Linked DNA regions of Homo sapiens. The protein of the gene in region 4 purifies or fractionates together with the protein of the main gene of each other region. This does not show direct contact. Each region holds a gene or a part of one and is shown on either strand. Other genes may lie near its edges.

The links.
Region 1: the proteins of SNRK (region 4) and NUP160 purify together in Homo sapiens (affinity purification with mass spectrometry; one large-scale study listed by BioGRID and IntAct). This does not show direct contact.
Region 2: the proteins of SNRK (region 4) and CPVL purify together in Homo sapiens (affinity purification with mass spectrometry; one large-scale study listed by BioGRID and IntAct). This does not show direct contact.
Region 3: the proteins of SNRK (region 4) and ABHD5 purify together in Homo sapiens (affinity purification with mass spectrometry; one large-scale study listed by BioGRID and IntAct). This does not show direct contact.
Region 5: the proteins of SNRK (region 4) and ARCN1 purify together in Homo sapiens (affinity purification with mass spectrometry; one large-scale study listed by BioGRID and IntAct). This does not show direct contact.

Annotation. Positions count from the first base shown.
Region 1 is NC_000011.10:47,779,965-47,782,352, reverse strand, and holds part of NUP160 (nuclear pore complex protein Nup160), read left to right. Parts: intron 1-1,905; coding exon 1,906-2,010; intron 2,011-2,388. UniProt on the Homo sapiens protein: Functions as a component of the nuclear pore complex (NPC). Involved in poly(A)+ RNA transport.
Region 2 is NC_000007.14:29,070,029-29,073,550, reverse strand, and holds part of CPVL (probable serine carboxypeptidase CPVL isoform b precursor), read left to right. Parts: intron 1-1,085; coding exon of another isoform or gene 1,086-1,127; coding exon 1,128-1,250; intron 1,251-1,646; coding exon 1,647-1,778; intron 1,779-3,522. UniProt on the Homo sapiens protein: May be involved in the digestion of phagocytosed particles in the lysosome, participation in an inflammatory protease cascade, and trimming of peptides for antigen presentation.
Region 3 is NC_000003.12:43,700,921-43,704,442, forward strand, and holds part of ABHD5 (1-acylglycerol-3-phosphate O-acyltransferase ABHD5), read left to right. Parts: intron 1-1,294; coding exon 1,295-1,667; intron 1,668-3,522. UniProt on the Homo sapiens protein: Coenzyme A-dependent lysophosphatidic acid acyltransferase that catalyzes the transfer of an acyl group on a lysophosphatidic acid.
Region 4 is NC_000003.12:43,289,528-43,293,049, forward strand, and holds part of SNRK (SNF-related serine/threonine-protein kinase), read left to right. Parts: intron 1-212; exon of another isoform or gene 213-262; intron 263-3,522. UniProt on the Homo sapiens protein: May play a role in hematopoietic cell proliferation or differentiation. Potential mediator of neuronal apoptosis.
Region 5 is NC_000011.10:118,578,901-118,582,422, forward strand, and holds part of ARCN1 (coatomer subunit delta), read left to right. Parts: intron 1-2,345; coding exon 2,346-2,609; intron 2,610-3,522. UniProt on the Homo sapiens protein: Component of the coatomer, a cytosolic protein complex that binds to dilysine motifs and reversibly associates with Golgi non-clathrin-coated vesicles, which further mediate biosynthetic protein transport from the ER, via the Golgi up to the trans Golgi network.

The DNA.
Region 1 (2,388 bases), on a different chromosome or scaffold from region 4:
TATATATATATATATATATATATATATATATATATATATATATATATATTTTTTTTTTTTTTTAACTGAGTTTTGCTCTGTTGCCCAAGCTGGAGTGCAGTGATGCAGCCTCCACTTACTCCCTCACTGCAGCCTCCGCCTCCCGGGTTCAAGTGATTCTCCTGCCTCAGCCTCCTGAGTAGCTGGGATTACAGGCACCTGCCACCACATCCAGCTAATTTTTTAATATTTTTGGTAGAGATGGGGCTTCACCATGTTGGCCAGGCTGGTCTCGGAACTCCTAACCTCAAGTGATCCACCCACCTCGGCCTCCCAAAGTGCTGGGATTACCCATGTGAGCCACCATGCCCGGCCTAGGCATTTCTTTTTATTATCATGCTATGTAAGGTGAGAATCTGAGAGTAAATTGAACTATATGTTAGTGTATTTAACCTTTACTATCTGTAGTTATACAACTAAATATTGACACTCTAGGAATCTCTAGTCTCCTGTTTATAAAATAGGAATTTCATCTTTCTCTATCAAAATAATATGGCATTAGTTAGGATTCAGTGGAGAGAGATAAACAAAATGGTATTGTGTGTGTGCCGGGACTGTGTTAAGTCTCTACAAGCATTTTTTTATTTAATCCTTATAGCAGCCTTATGAAGGAATGTTTTAATTTTCTATTTTTTAACCCATGAGGGAACAGGCTCAGAGGTTATCACAGGCTCATACAGATGGCAAATATAATAGAAGAGCCAGGTCTAAATAGGTGTAGTTAACTACAGCTTCAACCCTCATGAAATCAGCCAGGTGCAATAGCTCACACCTGTAATCCTAGCACTTTCGGAGGTCAAGGTGTGAGGATCGTTTAAACCCAGAGGTTAAGACCAGCCTTGGCAACATAGTGAGAACCTTTATCTACAAAAAATAGAAAAAAATTAGCTGGTCATGGTGGTGCGTGCCTATAGTCCCAGCTATGTGGGAAGCTGAGGTGGGAGGATCACATGAGCCCTGGAGGTTGAGGGTACAGTGAGCTATGATCATGCCACTACACTCCAGCCTGAGTGACAGAGTGAGACCCTGTCTGAAAAAAAAAAGAAAGTTGACATGAAATTATTTTTTATTTTTATTTTTTTATTTTTTCCAAGACGGAGTCTCGCTCTGTCGCCCAGGCTTGAGTGCAGTGGCATGATCTCGGCTCACTGTAACCTCCGCCTCCCGGGTTCAAGCAATTCTTCAGCCTCAGCCTCCCGAGCAGCTGGGACTACATCTGTGCCACCACACCTGGCTAATTTTTGTATTTTTAGTAGAGACGGGGTTTCACCATATTGGCCAGGCTGGTCTCGAACTCCTGACCTTGTGATCCGCCCACCTCGGCCTCCCAAAACGTTGGAATTACAGGCCCAGCCGACATGAATTTTTAAATATATTTAACCGAAAAAAATGACAAGTTTCCCAGTTGGAGAAAAGAGGGTTCCCATTGTGTGCATGCACATGTATACACACAGTTTCTTGTGGTTGGGGGAAAAAATGCATTTTATTTTGCCGGGCACAGTGGCTCACTTTCGGAGGCCAAGGCAGGTGGATCACTTGAGGCCAGGAGTTTGAGACCAGCCTGTCCAACATGGTGAAACCCCATCTCTACTAAAAATAAACATAAAAAAATTAGCTAGGCATGGTGGTGCACATCTGTAGTCCAGCTACTCAAGAGGCTGAGGCACAAGAATTGCTTGAGCCCAGGAGGCGGAGGTTGCAGTGAGCTGAGATTGTGCCACTGCACTCAGCCTGGGCGACAGAACAAGACCATCTCAAAAAAAAAAAAAAAAAGGGTATTTTATTCTACAGAGTCCTATGAAAGCAACTACCCAGAAGAAATGGTACACTTTGCAGACTGTTTTCAAATAAACATTTTCCTTTTAGTTTCCACTGTCCGCAACAGCCCCAATGGTGTGGCTTCCATACTCCTCTATTGATCAGCTTCTCCAAGCTCTGGGAGAGAACAGTGCCAACAGTCACAACATCGCAGTAAGTCAGCCCTTTCATGAGACGTCTTGTGTAAGCCCCTGCACTAGCAGTTACACCTTACAGCTTGATCTTCAGTTCTCCGGGATTAGAAAGGGAAGACAAAAGCCTATTTTTGGCCCTTAACAAACTGCCCAGTCCCTTTATAGATAAGGCAGAGGATCTAAGTAACAGGATCAAGAAAACATAATGAGGAACTGTGTAAGTGTTAATTATACAGAGACAAATGGCAAGCAGTCGGTCCATCCTTTAAAGCTTTTAATTTGGTAGGGCAGACCCTACAAGGTAAACAGGTACTTGAAATACAGCAATGATAGGCCGGGCGCAGTGGCTCACGCCTATAATCCCAGCACTTTGGAAGGCTGAGACGGGCAGATTACC
Region 2 (3,522 bases), on a different chromosome or scaffold from region 4:
AGCATGGAACCCAATGGGCTGGAAAGGAATGAGCGAGAGGGTGGCAGGGGTTGAGGGTAGAGAAGGGAGCAGATCATGTCAGCCCTTATGCCTTTGCTTTTGGGAAGATGGGAAGTCATTAAAGGATAAGGGCAAAAGAAGGAGGCCAATGAGGAGTCTACTGCAGTCATCCAGGCCAGAGATGATGTGATGGAGAAGGGGTTGTGAGAAGACATTGGACTCTGGACAGATTTTGTTAGAATAGGTAGAGCTGACAAGCTTGGCTGATTGACTTCTGTGGAATACGAGACAAAGAGAGATATAACGAATGGCACCAAGATTGTTGGCCTGAGCAGGGGAGAAACAGAATTAACATGAGATGAAAGGGAGGCTGCCTCAGGGTTGGGGATTGGGAGCTTTATTTTGAACATGTGCAGTTTAATATTAGACATACAAGTGGAGATATCAAGAAGGCAACTTTTGATGGAAAGAATGCAAAATGCAAAATTATTTGAAAAATACTGCTGAGTCAATAGTAGCTCTTCCAGCACAGTCTTAAAGTAGAACCGTTACCATGTTTGTTAGGGGAAATATATCTACAAAATATTCTGACCTTGAAAAAGGACCTTGTGCTGGAAAAGTTTGGAAATAGAGATGAGTTCAAGTGAAAATTTTAGTGGCCAATAAATATTATTTTCCTTTTCTGCTTCTCCTATTCCTTTAGTACATGTTGATTTCAAAATTTGCAGCATTATCAGATTTTGAAATCTTAATTTTAAACTTGAGATTTTTTTCCCTCTAATCTTTGAATAGAGCTTTCTGGTAAGAGATGCCTAACACATGGCAGAATTGTGTTCTCCCAAGTTATTTTATTTTGGAAGGAAATTAGAATGTTCACTTATTACATGTTCACTTGTGATTTTTTGTGCATCGAACCTGTTCATGTCATGTGGTGCTATTTGAGACGACAAAAGAATTGGAAGACAGAGGTTTTTGCTATTATGGAATCTATAATGTGGGGTTAAGAAACAGATGGTATACCTCATGTGGAAAGATTGCTCCTTCATTGTTATTTTAATTAGCTTAAGTACATTTAATTTTACTAGCATCCATTTGTGATTGGCCATTTCAACATCTGTCCTTCTCAGTCTTATGCAGGGAAATATGTGCCAGCCATTGCACACCTCATCCATTCCCTCAACCCTGTGAGAGAGGTGAAGATCAACCTGAACGGAATTGCTATTGGAGATGGATATTCTGATCCCGAATCAGTAGGTTTCTCCTTCTGACTTTCTATTTTGTCTCTTAGGGGGATTAAATGCCTTTTTATCAGATGGAAGGCTCCTCTTAGAGGTCTAACTTTTGATAAGGGAAACACCAGTTGACTTTATGACTTAAATCTCCTAATTTTTACCAAATGTTTCAACGTATCAATTTACTGTGTCAGCTTACATTGGCTGTCAGTGCAAATGTGTGTGTGTTTGTATTGTGTTGTGTTCTGTTGTGTGTGTTGTGGGGTGTATATGTGTGTGTGCATGTAATTATCCTACTTGGCTAACCAGCACAATATTAACAATTACAAAGGATTATTTCACCAAGCAAATGGGCTTCCTTAAGGTCTCTTTCTCTCCCTTTGTCACATTGATGTGTGTCTTTTTTGTCCTCAGATTATAGGGGGCTATGCAGAATTCCTGTACCAAATTGGCTTGTTGGATGAGAAGCAAAAAAAGTACTTCCAGAAGCAGTGCCATGAATGCATAGAACACATCAGGAAGCAGAACTGGTTTGAGGCCTTTGAAGTGAGTTCTGGGGGCCCTGTGCTGCCCTTGAGCAATTAAAACCATCTGGGGAGGGAGGGCGGGTGAGCAGGAACACCTTGGTGCTCAGGCATTTTTTTGTTAAGAAGGTATATCTGTTATTCCATTGGAGATCGGGAGGCGAGTTGAGTGGCCTCATAATGAAGAAAAGGACTGTCTGTGTTCCTTTGAATTTACTTTGGCTATATTTTAAGCCTGAGATCATCTTGGAGTGTTTATCTAACTGTGTCTTTCATTAACCGTTTTGATTTCTTTAAATGCTGTGGAGGCCCTCAAGGCAGACTCTATCATATGGAAATCAGAAGAAAGGCAACCCAGGAAGTAGAGGCATATGCTTCACCATCTGCTCTAAACCATGTAGAAGAGTTTTATATCCACAAACAGGGTTTCAGCTGGGAGAAATGACCACAGTGTGTAACAGATGACATGTGACACACGTGTCAGGAACAAAGATTATAAAGTGTAGTAATTTGAAACTCTTACAAAGGGCCATTGGTATTTGTGCATATCCTTTCATTGCTCCCCTAAAATTAAACTTGAGAATCAATAATTACGTTCTTCACTCTTTTCTTTCTCAGTTATTTAAAATGTAAGAATATACTAAATATTAGGATACAGGAAGTTGGGTTTTTTTTGTTTTTTTTTGCTTTTTTTGCCAATGCAGACAGAGCCATGTGTAAACAATCTCCCTGAGGGGCTTTTTGCCGTATTTACTATACAGCCATCATGTTTGACATGGTAGTAAATGAGGCAAGGTCTGAATTTCGAGGGCTTTAATTTGTTTGTTATTAGACACATATTCTGTAACAGTATATCTAATGTCGTTATTGTTATTAAAGCAGAAATCTGATATTAAGTCTTAAGGGCATTGCAGATCAGCCAGTTCAGATCAAAATAGGAGACATGCAACCTTGGAGAAAAGGGTAGAGGATAATACAAAGTTATTTTTCATTTTACAAGTAGGGTGTTGGGACACTATCAGAAATCCCCCAAGGCAGTGACCGCCCTTGCCGTGAATTCTGATAGCAGCTAGCTGTGCAAATGGATGGAGCAAAGGGAGTCCTGAGCCATCCTACAGAGCTCCACCAGGCTCTCCTTTCTCTGTGTCAGGACACTAAATGTGGCTGCAAAGTGTGGATTCAGAATTTCTTATGCAATTGTAAACACAAAGGAAGAGGGGTCTCCTGGGGCACATGTAGGATCATGCTTCCACTTGCAATGACAGTATTTTCAAGGCTTTCTGCTGTGGTAGTCACAGAGGGGACGAAGGAGTGAAACTTCAGTATTTAGAATTAATACCAAATTTTATGTGGCATGAGACCAATTTGCAATTGAAACATTTGATATGTTTTTAAAGAAGCACACAGGATAAAGCAATTGTCAAGAGCAAGAGCATTTGAGAGGCCCATATTTAGAAAAAAAGCAGAAAGATGACTGGTACATAATGCAGCAGGCTAAACACCTACAGGATTAGTGAAGCTGTAGAAAAGTTCAGGTGTGTTGTGTATTCAGAGATAATGAGAACATGACCCACGAGGTGAGAATCTCTCCCAAACCGGATACGTCAGAAACCGGAACCCCAAGCAGGTAAAACGTTTGAAGGCTTGGAATGTCTTTTTGACCATTGGTCCCGTATCTTGAGTGATGAATTAAAACAAGACCTTTGCTTTTTCAAGGAAAATAGATAAAATGATACTTAGGACAGTAAACAACTTGTGGTTGAAAT
Region 3 (3,522 bases), 410 kb from region 4:
GGGTAAACTTGCTCTCTACAAAACTAAGAAAGATGTCATTGTGATTTACCAAAATAAAAAAATTCTTATCAGGAGGTAAAAAAGGGGTGCTAGATTCTCAATTCATGCATTTAACAGACATAATGATTCCCTTCCTTTTGGTTCTAGGGATGCAAATAGGAATGTGAATTGGTCTCTGCTTTAGTGTCAGACATGAAAGTAAGCTACGGTGGAGTGAGTTCTCTAATAGTTATACAGATGGTTTTTATGGGAATACACAGACGTATGTGTTCAAAATGCTGAAGTGGTTTGGCTTGGCACTTAAGCCAAAGCAGCCCCTTTTCTAAACTAGTGGTATTTCCCCCAACTTGAGGGCTTGTGCTCCATTAATATTCTGAATGAATGTTAGGTTTCTTCTTTGCTGCCACTATGTGGATACAAAACATGATATTATTTCTTTGGTTAAAAGGCAGAAACTCCTGTTTCTTCAGTGTCTTGTTTACTGTATATGAATATGCATAAATAATTAAGGGGTATATCAAAAATGCAGCTGTTCAGTTGATAGTTAAATATAAATGATTTCAAATTTAATTTCATTTTTAGGCAATTTTTGGGAGTGTTTAAAGTATTTAGTTCCACAACATTAAAGGTAAAAAAGAGTTTTGGTCTATAAAATTGTGACTATTTGCTTTTTCTAGGAGATTACTAGAGTTGGACCCAAGTTACCTGGTGTGTCATGCTGAGGAGTTCCTACAATACTTTGTCAACCTTTTTTTGAAATGACTTAAGGTTTCACTTACATGTTTAACATAGATACCAGTAATCCTTCCCTAAATTCATGACTACTTTTTAAGGAAAAATGATGCCTTTAAGCCTGACTTCAACTCAAAGTTAACCAAAGAATACCACCTTGAAATTGTAGAACACCTGACAGTATTCTACAAATTCTCTGCAAAGCTAGAGACCTTAAAATAATGGGTTCGGTAACCACTAAGTTCCTTTTCACTTCTAGGAGTATAATACCCTCATTTGACAGATGTGGAAAGAAGTTAGAAGGTAATATGACTTGCCAAAGACCTTGATCACAGGTTACTTGAGGTTTGTCTGAGGTAGGTCTTCCCCTTTAGGTGTAAAACATGGTCATTTAGGATTATTTACTTCAATAAAATGTGTACTTTTTAAAAATAGCTGACAATACAAGCTAAAATCATGAGATTGGATACTAGATGATTTGTAATTTTTGGTTGCTCTGAGAATACTTCCCTTCTCAGAAGTAATAAAATGAAACAGAATTTCTCTTTTATGTTTTCATTAGGTGTGCCTTGCACATACAAAAAAGAACCTGTTCGTATATCTAATGGAAATAAAATATGGACACTGAAGTTCTCTCATAATATTTCAAATAAGACTCCACTTGTCCTTCTCCATGGTTTTGGAGGAGGTCTTGGGCTCTGGGCACTGAATTTTGGAGATCTTTGCACCAACAGACCTGTCTATGCTTTTGACCTATTGGGTTTTGGACGAAGTAGTAGACCCAGGTTTGACAGTGATGCAGAAGAAGTGGAGAATCAGTTTGTGGAATCCATTGAAGAGTGGAGATGTGCCCTAGGATTGGACAAAATGATCTTGCTTGGGCACAACCTAGGTGGATTCTTGGCTGCTGCTTACTCGCTGAAGTACCCATCAAGGTAAGTGGTGGTGACAGAAGAGAGGGATTATAACTGTGCTTCCAAGTACCAGACTCTAGTTCCCATCTTTGGTGGTTGTTAGTGTCTGAGCCACAAGGCAGACATTCTCTTAAAGGACCCTATAGACCACACCACAACTGATGACCAATATAGTAGCTGAAATAATCATGTCAGATCTTCCTATTACACGTACTACATGTTAATAGGCTTGGGAAAGGGGTTTCTATTTGTTAAGCTTAGAATTGTAGAAACTTTAATGTATAATTTTAAGCCACAAGTAAAAATTATTTATTATTATTATCATTAAACCTATGAATCCAGCAGGCTTCGTCTAATGTTTTCTAAGTTATAGTAAGCTGTAAGGGGAAACCAGAAGGTTAGAAGATGTAGGTACTAGTGCTAGCTCTATGACTTAGAGCAAATCACTTAACCTCTAACCTTTAGTTTTCTTTTACCTAAACTATAGAAAATACAACTTCATAGCATATATCCCAGGGTTTTTTATTATACCATACCCTAACCTTTCTCATTATAAAACATTGAATTAATGAACATTTGCTTCAAAGTCTTTCTAGCATCATCTCCTTTCTTTAACTTTTTTTTTTTTTAAGAGATAGAAGCTCGCTCTGTCACCCAGGCTGGAGTGCAGTGACATGATCTCGGCTCACTGCAGCCTCCGCCTCCCAGGCCCAAGCAATTCTTCTGCCTCAGCCTTTGAATAGCTGTGACTACAGGTGCATGCCACCACACTCAGCTAATTTTTGTAGTTTTAGTAGAGATGGGGTTTCGCCATGTTCGCCAGGCTGGTCTCAAACTCCTGACCTCAAGTGATCCACCCCCCTCGGCCTCCCAAAGTGCTGGGATGACAGACCTGAGCCACTGCACCCAGCCCCTTTACGTTATTTTTAAATGCTATTTACTGTCATTCATGTTACTACTCTGAGAGAGGGTCACATTTAAGTGCTAAGAAAACAGGAGAAAAACTCATCTTTGTTTTGATCATCTTTTGGAAAGAAACAACAAAAAATGAATACAGCATTTTTGTGTTGCCAGTGTATTTTTCCATTGGACTGATTTTTAAATCCAAAATTGCAACTGATTTTGACTTTGAGGTCCGTGAGTGAGACATGGGATGATGGTCATTTCAGAGTGCCTGTATGTACCTATAAGATCTCCCCATTGCATAACTCTGGGTGTGTGTTCAACACAGAATTTGATGTGTGAAGCAGCAGCCCTGTGTACCTGAGGTTCTCTTCCTCTGGAACAGCCACTTTTTCTCTATAGACTCTTTATCTAAACTTTAGCATTTACACCTGATTTTTCTGATCTCATGGTCCTATATGTGCTAGACAATAATAGTCCTGTCAACTGGCGGACCTGTTCTTTAAAAAGAAATGCAAATTTTCTTCTCCTGGTTGGCATTTTGGGGTTACTTTCTTTATTTTCTTTTTTTTTTTTTTTTTTTTTTGAGCCGGAGTCTCACTCGGTCGCCCAGGCTGGAGTGCAGTGGCGCGGTATCTCGGCTCACCGCAACCTCCGTCTCCCAGGTTCAAGCAATTCTCCTGCCTCAGCCTCCCGAGTAGTTGGGATTACAGGAGCCCGCCACCACACTGGCTAATTTTTGTATTTTTAGTAGAGACAGGGTTTCACCATGTTGGCCAGGCTGGTCTCAAACTCTTGACCTCAGGAGATCCGCCTGCCTTGGCCTCCCAAAGTGTTGGGATTACAGGCATGAGCCACCGCACCCGCTGGTGTTACTTTCTTTTATTGTGTCCTACTCTTAGTGACAAACACCTATTTGCATTTATGGTGAAAGGAGAAGGAAGTAGATGCTTTTCTGGTACAAGTCAACAGG
Region 4 (3,522 bases):
CCTCACGAGTGAGCACTGGAACTGTGTTGTCTGCTCTGGATAATCCAGAGCTACGTCATTGATCCTCATCTGCTTTTCTGCACATCTGCTTTGGGTTGTGGCTCTGTGTCTCATGGGAAACCATTTCTTGCTGGTGGTAGGGAAGGAACCTGTCTAAAGAGGATTCCTGCTTTGCCCTCCCTGAACATTTATTTCTCTGCTGTCACTTCCAGAGCCTCCTGAGAGTCTGCTTTGGCATCCCCAGCATTTGGCCTCTGCTCAGGTAGGCTGTTCCATGGCAAATCAGGCCTCTTTCCCTTTCCTTTTGCTATTATGCCCCCTAGTCTGCTGCCATGTGGCTACTCAAAAGTTACTTCAGACTCAGAGATCATTAGTTGTTCATCTAACATGTTTTAAGTTTTGGAGTATCTTCAGGCCCAAAGCAAGATTAGGTCTATCTGCACATCTAAACACATACCCTCTTGACTAATATTTGCCTGGACCGTTTAATGTAGGTTATGACAAAAATGCTCCAGGAACCTGGATTACACAACATAACGGTGGTCAAATCGCAGCCTCACTGGGCCTCAATTTCTTAATTGTTGACCTGCAGTTATCTCTCTTAAACCCATAATACTGTCAGCTCTTTGAAGGCAGAGACTACTTCTTTGATCTGTACATTATCAGACCCAAGTAATGCCGGGTACATAGTCTGTACCAAGAAGTGTCTTGGTGAAGAAGGTAAAAAAATCTAATCTTTAATTTGTTGATTTTATCAGCTTGTTATGGAAACCACACCCTTTCTAATAAAGCTGGGTTGGATTTGAATTGTTTTTCAATCATACAATTTTAGAACTAGAAGCAAATCCTCTACTTTCTGCTAGCATGTTGTAGATGTTCCTGTCCTGAAAGTCCAGTCTGAGAGAATGGCATCACCAGCTACCACTCTCCGCTAGAGTCATTCTGGATTTCTCCCTTTGCTTAGCCTCCTGTGCATTGAGTTCTTGGATTCTACTTCCAAAATGTGTCTCCTCCACAACATCCTTATCATCACTGCCCATATACCAGCTGCCCTCATTTTTAAGTCTTTAAGTAATTTACCTGGAGACATTTTCAGTTGTCTGCTTACCTGTCTTCTAGCTCTATTCTCGCCCTTTCAGTCTGATCTTCACTTTGCTGCCAGAGTAATTTGTTAAACCATCATCTCTGATTGCCATTCTCCTGCTCAGGATTTTTCTTGAGCTCTTGTTTTTGGCTCTTTATGCTAGCCTTCATTTGTTCATTTAATAAAATATATCTGTATATTTTGAGTAGATGCTATACTTGGCAGACCCTGGGATAAAGAACTAAATAAAATGAACATGATCCTTATGTGAACTGAGCCTGTCATTTAGTTTAGTGGGGGACACAGATTATTAACCACACAGTCACACAAATAATTATATGACCTCACATTTGTGATAAGGGTCATAATGGCAAAGGACACAGTGCTGTGAGTGAGTATAGGGAGCTGTATGTGCATGGAGTTGGGGAGGGCAAGGGGATGGTCAGGAAGTCGTCCTTTAAGCTGGGCCCTAGAGCATGGGTAAGGGCTAGCCTAGACCTAAGAAGTAGAAATTGATGAATTATATGGAATACATGCCTGACCTTGTCCCCTGCGCTCTGCATATATTGTTGTCTGAGTCATACTAAACTTCCTTGGGCCTCTTTCCTGAAAAGCCTCTTCCTTACCGTTGCCAGTTTCAGTTCTTAGCTCAAACACACAAAATTTATTTCTCCAGAATGCTGTCTGTGGCATTCTCCAAGGCAGATTTAGGAGAAAAGAACACCTCTTTTTGCGTATCTGTTCCCGTAAGAGACTGTGAATAAGTTGAGACAGAGACCTTCCTAGTATCCAGTACAGGTGTTTAGGGGCCAGTTTGTTGGGCCAATAGAGGATGAGGTTACTGATAAGAAAATGAGATGGAGAACTATATATACAACCCCTTTCAAATACTGTAATCTCATGGGAGGGAGGCCAGTTCTAAAGTTAGGGGGATAAAATCCTTAGGTGATTTGTATTCTACTCACACCCTGCTAATATATATTATCCCATTTAACTTTCACAATAACTGTCCAAGGTGGTGATTATCTTTATTTTATCAAGACATGCCTTTTCATAGAAGTTGAGTAACTTGTTGGGCTGTAGATCCTGTGGTACTCTTTCCACTGTGCTGTCATGCCACTCTGCATATGTGCTTAATAAATGAATTCTGATCATTCCTGAAGTGTACCTCTATGGTGAAGATAATAAGAAAAGTTAACTATGTGGTACTTTGAAATGTGGAATCTTAGGACTGTTATCCTAGCTCCTCCTCTGATGTTCCCTCGCCCCCAGGCAACTCTTAACTGGGTGTAGGACCTGGACAAAGTGAGTTTGTAACCTCATTGGCTTGGCCCTGCTTTTTCATTTGTAAAATGGGTATCACTCTTAAGGAATTAAATGATATAATGTAAAAAGTGCAGTACATACATAGATTCCTAGAAATTAAAATCTGTTTTCTCATTTTGAGACCTGCATTCAAACAAAACTGGAATTCTAATGGCCAACTGAGGCAGCAAAAGACATTTTAAAAATTAGAAATAAGACAAAAATCCATGGTTTTGCTTTACTCGTTTCTGTATAAACCTGCTTAGGTTACTAATAGATTTTTAGTAGTATGTATATGGGTGATAACGAGAGAGATCTATTAAGCCACAACAAAAATGTAGTGTTTTATGGAACTTTGTAGTGAACAATGAACTTTTAAAATTTGTTTGAATTCTCTAATAAGCTTATTTCTGTGTTGCTTTCATGTTAATATGTAAAGGATTTTCCTCTTTCATTGAGGCTCTTTGATGAGAAGCTTTTCCTGTGCATTTTTTATTCTTTAATGACGCTTTGACTAAACTTAAGTATAATTCAAACACAGATATGTGGTGAATTAGTTAGTATGGCAAATTTTCCATTTGTTTTGTCCAGCACGGTTGCTTAAATGATGAGCCAGTAGGTATTCTTCAGAATCAGCTGTAGGTATTCTTCAGAATCAGCTGCCTCTCTTAAAATTTATCTGACTTCCACTCCCAAATCATCACTTCACCTAAACTGGTGTTCTTTCCTAAGCCAGCCAGCTGTAGGCACTCTTACTTTGTTTCTTGTTTACCCCACTTTCAGGAATGGTGTTCCTCTACTCCTGTTGAAGGATAAGCCCTGGTCTGTGGGCTGCACCAGTCCTTGGTGAGCCTGCCATCTATAGTGTCCTCTATTCTTCCTCTGACATGCCTCACCTAGGCTCACTTGTGTAATTATTTCTCTTTTTATATGGGGATACTATTTTCTTTTCTTTTTTTTAAGTACTGGGATACATGTACAGAATGTGCAGGTTTGTTACATAGATATACATGTGCCATGGTGGTTTGCTGAACTGTAGGTCCTGTTTTCCTAAATCATTTTTAAGATTTGAATGGACAGGGACTGTGTTGTGTCCTGTACAGTTAAGGCTCAAATTATTTGTTAATGAAAAT
Region 5 (3,522 bases), on a different chromosome or scaffold from region 4:
TTTTTTAATAAAAAAAGAAAAATCCATTACCTTGAAGTGGCATAAATTTTTTTCATGAGATGCATGTTTATTATTACTAATGGTGCTGTTTTACATCATGAATATATGTGCTACAAGTTGTATAGCACTTCTGAAGTACAGTTTCATTATAGTCATTTGGCCCTCATAATAGCTTGTAAGGTCATTAGATAATGCTGCATTTTATAGGAAAAGAAACGAGGTTAAGAGAGGTTGGGTAACTGAAGGTCAGGCAGATAGTAAATAGAAGAACAAAACTAGAAAATAGATTTTCTCACTCCCAGTCATTTAGTTTTTCTAATATCAGCTTGGTTCTTTGCAAATTTGGGACACTAGTTCTAAGTCTTTAGGAAAAGGAGAAACCAATGTGAAATGATCCCAAATATAAGGGAATTCCCTACTTTTCTGATGAAACTATTAAGAAGGAAAGCTTTTTGCCAATTGTATAAACTTTTTAAAATGCAGCCAAAATAGGCCGGGCGGTGGCTCATGCCTGTAATCTCAGCACTTTGGGAGGCCGAGGTGGGCAGATCACCCGAGGTCAGGCATTTGAGACCAGCCTGGCCAACCAACATGGTGAAACCCCATCTCTACTAGAAATACAAAAAAAAAAAAAAAAATTAGCCGGGCGTGGTGGCAGGCGCCTGTAATCCCAGCTACTCGGGAGGCTGAGACAGGAGAATCACTTGAACCTGGGAGGTGGAGGTTTCAGTGAGCGGAGATCTTGCCATTGCACTCCAGCCTGGGCAACAAGAGCAAAACTCCATCTTAAAAAAAAAAAAGGTAGCAAAAATAGTCAAATATGTTCTTAAAATAGTTAATAATTCACTTATATGTATATGTTTTAAATAAATAAAGTTTAATTTAGAAATAATTACTTTTTTCCATTTTCATATTAATAAAACAATTTTTTCTAGATTCTTTATGAACATCATGTCATCACTGGGGCCACTTTTTGAATCATCAGTTTGGTATTTAGCAGTTTTGAATCCATGTGTGATATATTGGCAGTTTGGGAAATTTTATCCCAAGTCATAAAAACCCATTTATATAATATTAGGATAGTTGCTTTTAAAAGGAATATTTTGTAACTGATATTCAACACATGAAATTGTGAGTTCTGGCTAGGCGTGGTGACTCATGCTTGTAATCCCAGCACTTTGGGAGGCCAAGGTGGGCTGATCACTTGAGTCCAGAAGTTCAAGACCAGCCTGGGCAACATGGTGAAACCCCACTTCTACCGAAAATACAAAAATTTGCCAGGCATGATGGCACCTGCCTATAGTCCCAGCTCCTTTCAGGGGGCTGAGGCAGGAGGATTGTTCAAGCCCAGAAGTTGAGGCTACGGTGAGCCAAGATTGCACCATTACAGTCCAGCTTAGGTGACAAAGTGAGACCCTGTCTCCAAAAAAAAAGAAAGAAATTGTGAATTCTGATCCTCAGGATAATTACTAAATCCAGTGACCTTTTGTTAGTACTACATGCAAAACTAGCGTAGTTTGAAGATAAGATGTATCCCAGACAATTATTTTAGTTCAATATAAAGTCATTGAGGGAGCACCTTTAATATGAGAGACTATGGAAGGATTCAAAACTACACAACTCTTTTTTAAAAATATATAAGTATTCCTTACATAAAAATATATTACCATGATAGCATATTTTCACACCTAAAAAATTAGCAATAATTTTTAATATTATCAATTATTCAGTCACTGTTCAAATTTGATTTATACATTGTGATTGATTGACATGTCTAAGTCTCTTAATGTGTTTGTATTTTTAGTAGAGATGGGGTTTCACCATGTTGGTCAGGCTGGTCTCGAACTCCTGACCTCAAGTAATCCACTCGCTTTGGCCTCCCAAAGTGCTGAGTTTACAGGTGTGAGCCACTGTGCCCGTGAAAGTCAGTATTCTATTACTTGTCATGTCAGCTGGTCGTGGTAGTTCACGCCTATAATCCCAGCACTTTGGGAGGCCAAGGCAGGAGGATCGCTTGAACCCAGGAGTTCAAGACCAGCCTGGGAAACATAGCGAGATACTGTCTCTACTAAAAGCTTTTTAAAAATTAGCGAGGCTTGGTGGCACACACTTGTAGTCCCAGCCACTCAGGATTTCTTGAGCCCAGGAGTTTGAGGTTGTAGTGAGCTGTGGTCTTGCCATTGCACTCCGGCATGGGTGACAGAGTGAGACCCTGTCTTAAAAATAATACTACTACTAGTCATGTCACTAAATAAATATGTCATTCTATGGAACATTTCCTGAGATGCTGAGAAAACAGATGTGAAGAAATAATTAGTACTTACTTATGCATATGTTCCTGGCAGGTGCTGTTGGCAGCAGCGGTCTGCACAAAAGCAGGAAAGGCTATTGTTTCTCGACAGTTTGTGGAAATGACCCGAACTCGGATTGAGGGCTTATTAGCAGCTTTTCCAAAGCTCATGAACACTGGAAAACAACATACGTTTGTTGAAACAGAGAGTGTAAGATATGTCTACCAGCCTATGGAGAAACTGTATATGGTACTGATCACTACCAAAAACAGCAACATTTTAGAAGATTTGGAGACCCTAAGGCTCTTCTCAAGAGTGGTAAGAGTACTGCTATAATACTGGGTTCCACTTTTTGTTTTACATTTTATGTGAAACTAGTTTTTCCTCCAAAGCAGCTGATGCTAACCAGTTTGCAGGTTCCTACTCCGCACCCCAGCGACTTATTGCTGCAGCACCTTGTTTATTCAGCAGACATTTATTGGGTGTCCTCTTAGACTATAGATGTCTCAAAAGAATATGGGAACTACTGTTTCATTTCCCAGTTCTTAAGCAGTTGTTCTAATCTGCCGTTCTAGTTCTGACACTTGTTTGGCTATGCTTTTTAGGTAATGTTTTTTAGGTAAGACTTACTGATCCAGAGACAGACACACACACACACACCCCTCTTCTAAGACTTTATGCCAAAGTCTTGCTTAAAATGAAGACTTAGGTAAGACTTACTGATCCAGAGACAGACAGACAGACAGACACACACACACACACACACACACACACACCTTTTAAGACTTTATGCCAAAGTCTTGCTTAAAATGAAGGCTAAGGCCAGGTGCGGTAGCATGTGCCTGTAGTCCAAGCTACTCAGGAGGCTGAGGCAGAAGGATTGCTTGAGGCCAGGAGTTCAAGTGCACAGGCATTATACTTTAGTGTGGGCAACACAGCAAGACCCTGATTCTTTTTTTTTTAAAGACGGAGTCTCGCTCTTGCCCTGGCTGGAGTGCAGTGGTGCAATGGTGCAATCTCGGCTCACTGCAACCTCCACCTCCCAGGTTCAAGCAATTTTCTGGCCTCAGCCTCCCGAGTAGTTGAGATTACAGATGTGCATCGCCATGCCTGGCTAATTTTTGTACGGGGTTTCACCATGTTGGCCAGGCTGGTCTCGAACTCCTGACCTCAGGTGATCTGCCTATCTTGGCGTCCCGAAGTGCTGGGATTACAGGCATGAGCCGCTGCA